3 separate regions of the Homo sapiens genome follow, and all the other regions are linked to region 1. The links come from fine-mapping of genetic effects on gene expression. A gene starts in region 1. Each other region holds a variant in brackets. All regions are shown on one strand. Distances are from middle to middle. Region 1 holds the start of UNKL (unk like zinc finger). Region 2 overlaps UNKL (unk like zinc finger). Region 3 overlaps BAIAP3 (BAI1 associated protein 3).

Region 1 (2,666 bases):
AAACACACATAATCCCTCGGGAACTGGCCTGAGAATAGGAAATGCCGCCCCAGCATCCCTGGTCACTAGAAAATTTCAGCGTATAATTACGACTCCCTCTGCAGGGGCCAGGTATGGACACTAAGGCGTCCGCTGAGGGTCCCGGCCGCATCCCCGGGTGGAGGCCCCCCACCTCCGCCCAGGCAGCGGCGCCCCCTCGCGGCCGCTTACTCGTCGCCGTCGGGGCACACGCCGGTGGCTTCGTTGTACTTGGAGCAGTACACGTCGGGGCTGTAGTTGAAGGTGCCGTCGCGCCTGCGGAGGGGCCTGCGGCGCCGCTGGTTGAGGAAGTGCCAGTGGAAGCAGGTGAACGGCCGGTGCTGCGCGCACTTGTGCTGTGAAAACAGGGGGCACTGCTCCGTCCTGAACTCCTTCAGGTACCTACAAACACAGACAGCGCCGCGGCTCGCTTCCGGCAGCACCTCCAGGGACTCGGACTCGTGGGCGGCGGGACCCACCGGCCTCAGGAGCCTCAACCCAGGGTCGACCCGTACTCACATTCCCGGCGGGCCCCAGGCGCTGCGCCCACCCCCATCCCGACTCCAGACGCGACCCTCACCCGACCTCGTAGCCCAGGCGCTGACCCTGGTCCCCAAGCCCAAGCGCCACCCCGGACCCTGGGCGACCCGCTGTGACCTCACGGTCGGCAGCCGGAGCAGAGGGTCCCGGTCCCCGAGCCCAGGCGCAACCCCCAACCCCGGGGCGTTCCTCCCTCCCCAGAGGCGCGTGGACCCCGGAACCAGGTGCCATCCCAGACCATGGGCGCCGCGCTCCGACCTCAGGCGGAGGCCGCCGAGAGCAGAGGGTCGTGGCCCCCCCAGCCCAGGCGCTGCGCGGAGGCCGGGGGGCGCGGGGGCGGCGGAGGCGGCGCGAGCCCCGGCGGGAGGCTCCGAGCTGCACCGGGCGCGGGCGGGGGGCCGCAGGCCGGACGGGCGCTGACCTGTAGTGGGTCGGCTTCTCAGTCTGCGGGGGGGACCCGCTCAGCGCCGCTGCCGCCGCTTTCGAAACCGACGGCATTTTCAGTCAAAACAATGCAGCGCGCATGCGCCGCGCCGGCGCCCCCGCCCCCGGATATCCCCGCGCGCCCCCGCGGCCACGCCCCCCGCGGCCCCGCCCCCAGCCCGCAGACCCCGGCCCCGCCCCAGCCCCGCGCCCCCCGCAGCCCCGCCCCCGGCCCGCAGACCCCGCCCCAGCCCCGCGCCCCGCCCTGCCCTGCCCTGCCCTGCCCTGCCCTGCCCTGCCCTGCCCTGCCCTGCAGCCCCCGGCCCGGGACGCTGGTCCTGCCCGGGGCCGCGCGTGGGACCCGCGATGGTCGCCCCTGCTGTGACATGACCCGACATAACCGTGTATTTTACATGAATTAATCACAAGAGTTGTATCTCAATAGAGCTGCTCTTCCACAAACGAACCAAGAGGCTGATGTCAGGGGGAGCCAGGCACCGGGCGGAAGGGCCAAGGGGTCCTGGCCTTTGTAGAAAGGAATTTGTTCCATTTCGAACCTTGACCTCAAAAACTTATACTCAGAGATTTATCTACAAAGGTAATTATCACAGTTATTTTGCAAACACTTGAGGTCCCCCTTCCCCCAACAGCGCAGTAGCTGAGAAAAGGGAAAACTCTAAGTGCTCTGCGTGATTTGAAACAGTGCTTCCGAAGAATTTTTAGTGGTAGGAGGCCGGGCGCGGTGTCTCACGCCTGTAATCCCAGCACTTTGGGAGGCCGAGGCCGGCGGATCAGCTGAGTTCGGGAGTTTGACAACAGCTTGGCCAACAGTGAAACCCCGTCTCTACTAAACATACAAAAATATTAGTGGGGTGTGGTGGCTTGCGCCTGTAATTCCTGCTACTCCGGAGGCTGAGGCAGGAGAATGGCGTGAACCCGGGAGGCGGAGGTTTAGTAGTGAGCCGAGATTGCGCCACTGCACTCCAGCCTGGGTGACAGAGTAACACCCTGTCTCAAAAAATAAAAAAGAAATTTTTAGTGATATGAAAAATGTGCCCATTGGCCGGGCGCGGTGGCTCACGCCTATAATCCCTGCACTTTGAGAGGCCGAGGTGGGCGGATCACGAGGTCAGAAGATCGAGACCATCCTGGCTAACACGGTGAAACCCCGTCTCTACTAAAAATACAAAAAAAAAAAAAAAAATTACCCGGGCGTGGTGGTGGGCACCTGTAGTCCCAGCTACTCAGGAGGCTAAGGCAGGAGAATCACTTGAACCCAGGAGGCGGAGCTTGCAGTGAGCCGAGATCGCGCCACTGCACTCCAGCCTGGGCAACAGAGCGAGACTCCGTCTCAAAAAAAAAAAAAAAAAAAAAAAAAAAAAACGAAAAGAAAAATGGGCCCATTTAGGTTGAAAGCAAATCACTTCCTACAGATTTGTTCCAAGTATCTCAGGGTTTTTTTTAATATTAATACTGTAAAACAACAAAAACTATCATTTGCTGGTAGGATAAATTTCTTCATAGGTTCACATTTTCTTTTTCTTTTGGCGGGGGGCGGGGGGAGGAAGGAGTTTTGCTCTTGTTGCCCAGAGTGGAGTGCAATGGCACGATCTCGGCTCACTGTTGCAACCTCCGCCTCCTAGGTTCAAGGAATTCTCCTACCTCAGCCTCCTGAGTAGCTGCGA
Region 2 (2,666 bases), 47 kb before region 1:
GACACGGCAGTGGCCAGACAGGCCAGGCCCCTGAGGGCAGCTGGGTGCCCAGGATGTGGGCTACGCAGGACCCTCTGTCCTATAGCAGCGAGTCCAAGAGCCCACCCTTAGCAGGCGAGGTGAGGAGGGGCACGCCGAAGTGGAGGGGTCATGTGTGAGGGTCACAGCTGTGAACAGGGAGGGATGGGGCCACGGGGAGCAGTGTGGCATTCGCTGACAAGAGGGAGGGGTGAAAGGGCAAGGGCCAGCCTGACAGGAAAGGCGGCTCCCAGGGAGACAGGCAAGGAGGCCACAGGGGGCTGTGCTGGGGTGGGGCACCGTCTCCTCCTCCCTAGGCCCGGAGCAGACCCTGGGGCAGGGGAGGAAGGGGACACCGCACCAGCCAGGGCCCTCCCCAGACAGGGACAGCAGCCCTGCAGGCAGGCTGGCCCCTCACCCTGCCCAGAGCAGGACTCACGCCGTCCACCGCCTCCAGGTCCAGGCGCAGCTGACTCTGCAGCGAGTGCAGCTTCGGCAGGGGAATGGTGCCGATGTCCCCACAGCCCCGCAGCCCCGGCAGTGTGGAGGCTACGCCCAGGCCCTCCAGCTCCTCCTGCAGCTGCTTCACCTGTGCCTCCACCTCCTCCTTCTTCTGCAGCGCCAGCTGCCGGTCGCTATCGGCCACACGGGCACGCTCCTTGGCCTCCTGCGCCTCTCGCTGCCAGGCATCGCAGACCTGAAACCCAGGGCCCGTCTCAGCACCCCCCACCTCACCTGTGCCACCTGCAGACCCTCTTGCCTGTGTCACCAGCGATCCTCCCCTCCCCTCCCCAGCATCAGCTGTGGCCCCCTCACCTGAGACCCCTGCGGCCCTCCCTCCCTCCCTCCCTCCCTCCCTCCCCCTCCCGTCTCACCCCCCACACGCTCACCTGAGTCACCTGCGGCCCTCCCTCCCTCCCCTCCCATCTCACCCCCACACGCTCACCTGAGTCCCCTGCGGCCCTCCCTCCCCCTCACCTGTCTGGCCCCCCCACACACTCACCTGCTTCACCTGCTGCCAGGACTCCTCCCACTGCCGGATCTTCCTCTTGGCCTCGTCCAGCTGCCGCCTGACCCGGGCCAGCTCAGCTCCGTTTGGACTTGCACTCGAAGAGGATGGGGGGCCGGCACTCAGGATGGGGGAGGGGCTGGGGGAGAAGCTGCCGGAAACAAAGTCCCAGATGCTCCCGGGGACACCGTTCAAACCTGAGTGTGAAACGGTCGATGACGGCCCAGCCCTGCTGTGCTCGCGGCCTGGTGGGATTGGTGGGTGCTATGCCCCAGGCCCCACCGCTACGTGGGCACCCTCTGGGGCTCACCTGCCCTGGCAGCAGGGGTGCAGCCACGCCTGCCCCTTGCCCCACTCCTGGACCCCACCAGGCTCAGGAAGAGGCGCTGACAGTGACACCTGCCCCGGCCGGTCTCCCCACCAGATCTACGCCTTCCTGGCCACCTGAGGAGTCTAAACAGAGAGGAATTAAATTCAAGTTCCTGGGACCACACCATGAGGTGGGAGGGGCAGTGGTTCTCAGACTCCACTCCCAGGAACCCCTCACACACTGAGACTCTCAAAGACCCCACAGAGCT[G/A]TGTCCATGTGGTGACTGCCAATGTCTATGCAGCTTTAGAGACTATGACTGAAATAGTTTAAATGTTACTTAAAAAAAACAGGCCGGGCGCGGTGGCTCACGCCTGTAATCCCAGCACTTTGGGAGGCCGAGGCGGGTGGATCATGAGGTCAGGAGATCGAGACCATCCTGGCTAACAAGGTGAAACCCCGTCTCTACTAAAAATACAAAAAATTAGCCAGGCGTGGTGGCGGGCGCCTGTAGTCCCAGCTACTCGGGAGGCTGAGGCAGGAGAATGGCGTGAACCCGGGAAGCGGAGCTTGCAGTGAGCCGAGATTGCGCCACTGCAGTCCGCAGTCCGGCCTGGGCGACAGAATGAGACTCCGTCTCAAAAAAAAAAAAAAAAAAAAAAAAAAACAGGCCTGTCATCCCAGCACTTTGGGAGGTCGAGGCCAGCAGATCACTTGAGGTCAGGAGTTTGAGACCAGTATGGCCAACATGGTGAAACTCCATCTCTACTAAAAATACAAAAATTAGCCTGGCGTGGTAGCAGGTACCTGTGATCCCAGCTACTCGGGAGGCTGAGACATGACAATCATTTTAACCCGGAAGGCAGAGGCTGCAGTGAGCCAAGATTGCTGGAGCCTGGACGACAGAGTGAAACTTTGTTTTAAAAAAATAAAAACTTTTAAAATTTTGTATTTTTTTGTAGACTCAGGAGTCTCACTATGGTGCCTAGCCTGGTCTTGAACCCCTGGCCTCAAGTGACCACCCACCTCGACCTCCCAAAGTGCTGGGATTACAGGCTTGAGCCACTATGTTGGCCCAAAGTATTAGTTTTTTTTTTTTTTTTTTTTTTTTTTTTGAAATGGAGTCTAGCTCTATCGCCAGGCTGGATTGGAGTGCAGTGGCACAATCTCAGCTCACTGCGACCTCCGACTCCCGGGTTCAAGCGATTCTCCTGCCTTAGCCTCCCAAGTAGCTGGGATTACAGGCATGTGCCACCACGCCCGCCTAATTTTTGTATTTTTAGTAGAGACGGGGTTTCACCATGTTGGCCAGGATGGTCTCGATATCCTGAC
Region 3 (2,666 bases), 65 kb before region 1:
GGAAAGGTTCCCCTGAGGTCACTCTGAGGCCAGGGACGTCACCCAAGGCTGGTGGTCAGTGTGAAGGGCTCCGTGCCAACTGGTCAGCTGTCCTTCACGCACATATCCGTGGCCACCTGAGACCTGCTCCACGACCCTTCCAGGCAGAGCCGAGAGTTCGCCCCAACCCTTCCCCAGGCCCAGTGTGAAAAACAGACTCACAAGGGGCTTCTTGGCCTGCAGCTTCATTTGCGAGAGCGCCGAGGCAGGACACAGAGCACAGCTGTGCTGGAAGTGTGGGGAGAACCCGGACAGCTCAGTCCTGCCAGCAGCCGCAAAGAGCCGAGGCTGCCAGGCCCATTTATGTCCCTCATGTCTCTAGATTTTCTCGTCACCCAGCCTCAAAAATATATGTGTCTGCAACCCTCAGTCTCTCTGCCGTTTCTTGATTCCTTTCCAAACCTCAGCCGGGGCCCTGGCCTCAGCCCCCCGTCCCTGCGTCTGCTCCTCTTCACAGCAGCTGCTGCTGGCTCCTCCGCGCTCGGCGCCAGGCCCTGGGTCCTCAGACGCATCACTGTCATCAGTGTCCGAGGGCAGCCTGGGAGAGGAGGGGGAGCACGTTCCCAAATGACGTCCTCCCTGGCTAGCTGGAGTCAACGTCATCCACAAAAAGCCCCCAGCCGAGGACAGATTCCTCTTCCTCCCTGTGCTCTCCACACCCAAACCTCTCCAGTGGGACATGCACTGCAGGTTTTCTAGTCAGAAGACCATCGGGGTGTTGTTTACAACACCACCCCCAGGCAGCAGGAAGGGCTCAGGCCAGAGGTAGAAGAGAGCCCTGGGTCTGAGTGATCATGAAATTAAGCCCAAGGACCTACCGGGTGCTGGCCACAGGCCTGTTGGGGTTTCCAAACTCTCTCCCTGAATCCACATCGAAGGGATCTGAGCCGAGAGAGGAAAGTGGCCTCTAAGTGAGCTCAGAGCAGGACCAGGCCTCCCACCCCCCAGGCTTTGGAGGGCCTTGGTTCCCACCCCGCCAAGGCTCACCGATCTCCTCCTCCTGGGGGCTCTCCTTGGCATTGGCCAAGAACTCCTGCTCCGCCTGCAGCACCTCCTCCGGGCTGCCGCAGGCCGCGTACTTGTCCAGGAGCTGGCGGTTCAGGTCCAAGAAGCCCTTGCCCCATTTAAACTTCCGCAGCAAAATGACAGCAAGGTCTGGAAAGCCTGACGGTGTGAGAAACAGGAAACCCAAAGAAGTCGACGGTCCCCTCAAGTGCCTCCTGATCACCCTGCTGCCGGATGGCGGCGCTCTCCCAAGTAACCGCAGGGTCCCCAGCAAACATCAGCTCACAGTCCTGAGAACCCGTGCTGCCCCCAGCCTGCACCTCCCTTGCTACAGTCCACACCTCTGCAACCGACCAAGTCCCCCTCCTTTGCTGCGAAACAAACATTCCCACCAAGACTGCCCCACGCCTCATCAGGGCCTCTTTAGATCAGCAATTCAGTAAGGAGGACGTGGAGGATAAGGAGGATTCTCTGGGCAGTGGTGCCCTGATAATGAATGGCACCCCACACACCGGCCCTGATAGAACAGCGATCCCATTCTGCCTCTACTGCAACTCCACAGGCCGAAAACCTGAAGTGACAGTTGGGGCTGGAACCGTGGTCTGTCTGAACTGTT[C/T]CCCTGTCCGTCCCTTATGCTCCTCCTGGGGTCTGTCGGCAGGAAACATGATGCTGGGAGCATAGCAGGAACAGCAGGCCGCCGGGTCACACTGCTGTGGGGCCCCTGGACTCACCTACGATGCAGAAGGTGGCAGCAAACGCTTCCACGCAGGAAAGTCTGTAGGGCCGGCCATAGTTCACGGGGTTGGCGGCCACCAGGTAGGGCAACAGGCGCAAGTGGCTCCCTCGCATCTTCCCAAACGGTGTCTCGTCCAGCCTGGCCCAGGAGCAGTCGATGACGGCGACCCCAGACTGCGCCACCAGCTGTCTGCCAGGGACAGCATGGGATAAGTTCAGGAGCCAGCACTACCCAAGGTGGAGCATGCCCCGGAGAATGGCCTAGCTAAGGGATTCAGGGACATCATTCCGCCATCCCCAAACACCCTCAAACGGACTTCACGAGCAAGCTTTTGAGGCAGCTGCTTGGGGCACCTGGAGCATGTGTTTATTCACTCAACAAACGTTTATTACCCCAAAACCTCCTTTATCCCAGGCTCTGCGCTACGCAACGGAGGCAAACTAGACAGACGTTCCCTGCCCACGTGGGTGTGGATGTGGGTGCGACATACAAGTGCCACTAAACCATCCCTGAAGGGAACCACGCGCTGGAAATGAAGACGACCTCGGGCAGGCCTCCCGCGCCTACCTGTCTGCGGGGGACGCGTACTGCTTGCCCACGGGGCTCAGCACCAGACCGCCGAATCTGTGGCCCAGGCGCAGGCAGCGCACCAGCCCCAGGCGGGCCAGCTTGCGGCCCGTGCAGCGCCGGGGGTCGCAGTGGCCCAACTCCCACATGGCCAGCGTGCAGGGCAGCGCCGCCGGGCCCGGGCCGCCCTCGCCGTCAGCCGCCCCTGGCTCCACGGAAGCTGCACGAGAGAGAGAAGGGCACTCGGCCTCAGCGTGGGACCCCCGGGCAGGCCCTCAAACCCTGACCCGCTCTCCCCATCACGCCTCGCTCACCCTGC

The links. PIP is the estimated chance that this variant, and not a neighbour inherited with it, causes the effect.
Region 2: its variant is fine-mapped to the expression of UNKL in whole blood (TOPMed, PIP above 0.99).
Region 3: its variant is fine-mapped to the expression of UNKL in whole blood (TOPMed, PIP above 0.99).

What each region holds. Positions count from the first base shown.
Region 1 is chr16:1,413,636-1,416,301 of GRCh38, forward strand. UNKL (unk like zinc finger) reads right to left here and starts at 1,069. Exons shown (of 15, transcript NM_001372107.1): 1 at 980-1,069; 2 at 211-420. The coding sequence starts at 1,056. RefSeq lists enhancers at 1-544, 545-1,119, 1,120-1,694, 1,695-2,268 and silencers at 64-213, 644-693, 1,234-1,353, 1,404-1,473.
Region 2 is chr16:1,366,635-1,369,300 of GRCh38, forward strand. UNKL (unk like zinc finger) reads right to left here. Exons shown (of 15, transcript NM_001372107.1): 13 at 1,022-1,224; 14 at 458-715. Among named protein-coding and RNA genes, the nearest start is that of GNPTG, 16 kb to the left of the region's middle. The variant G/A (reference allele first, on the strand shown) is at 1,606.
Region 3 is chr16:1,349,032-1,351,697 of GRCh38, forward strand. It overlaps BAIAP3 (BAI1 associated protein 3), which reads left to right. Exons shown (of 34, transcript NM_001199097.2): 34 at 1-408. TSR3 (TSR3 ribosome maturation factor) reads right to left here. Exons shown (of 6, transcript NM_001001410.3): 1 at 2,662-2,666; 2 at 2,348-2,567; 3 at 1,776-1,969; 4 at 1,027-1,203; 5 at 858-921; 6 at 209-577. The coding sequence ends at 406. Among named protein-coding and RNA genes, the nearest start is that of TSR3, 1.5 kb to the right of the region's middle. RefSeq lists a silencer at 2,425-2,666. The variant C/T (reference allele first, on the strand shown) is at 1,661.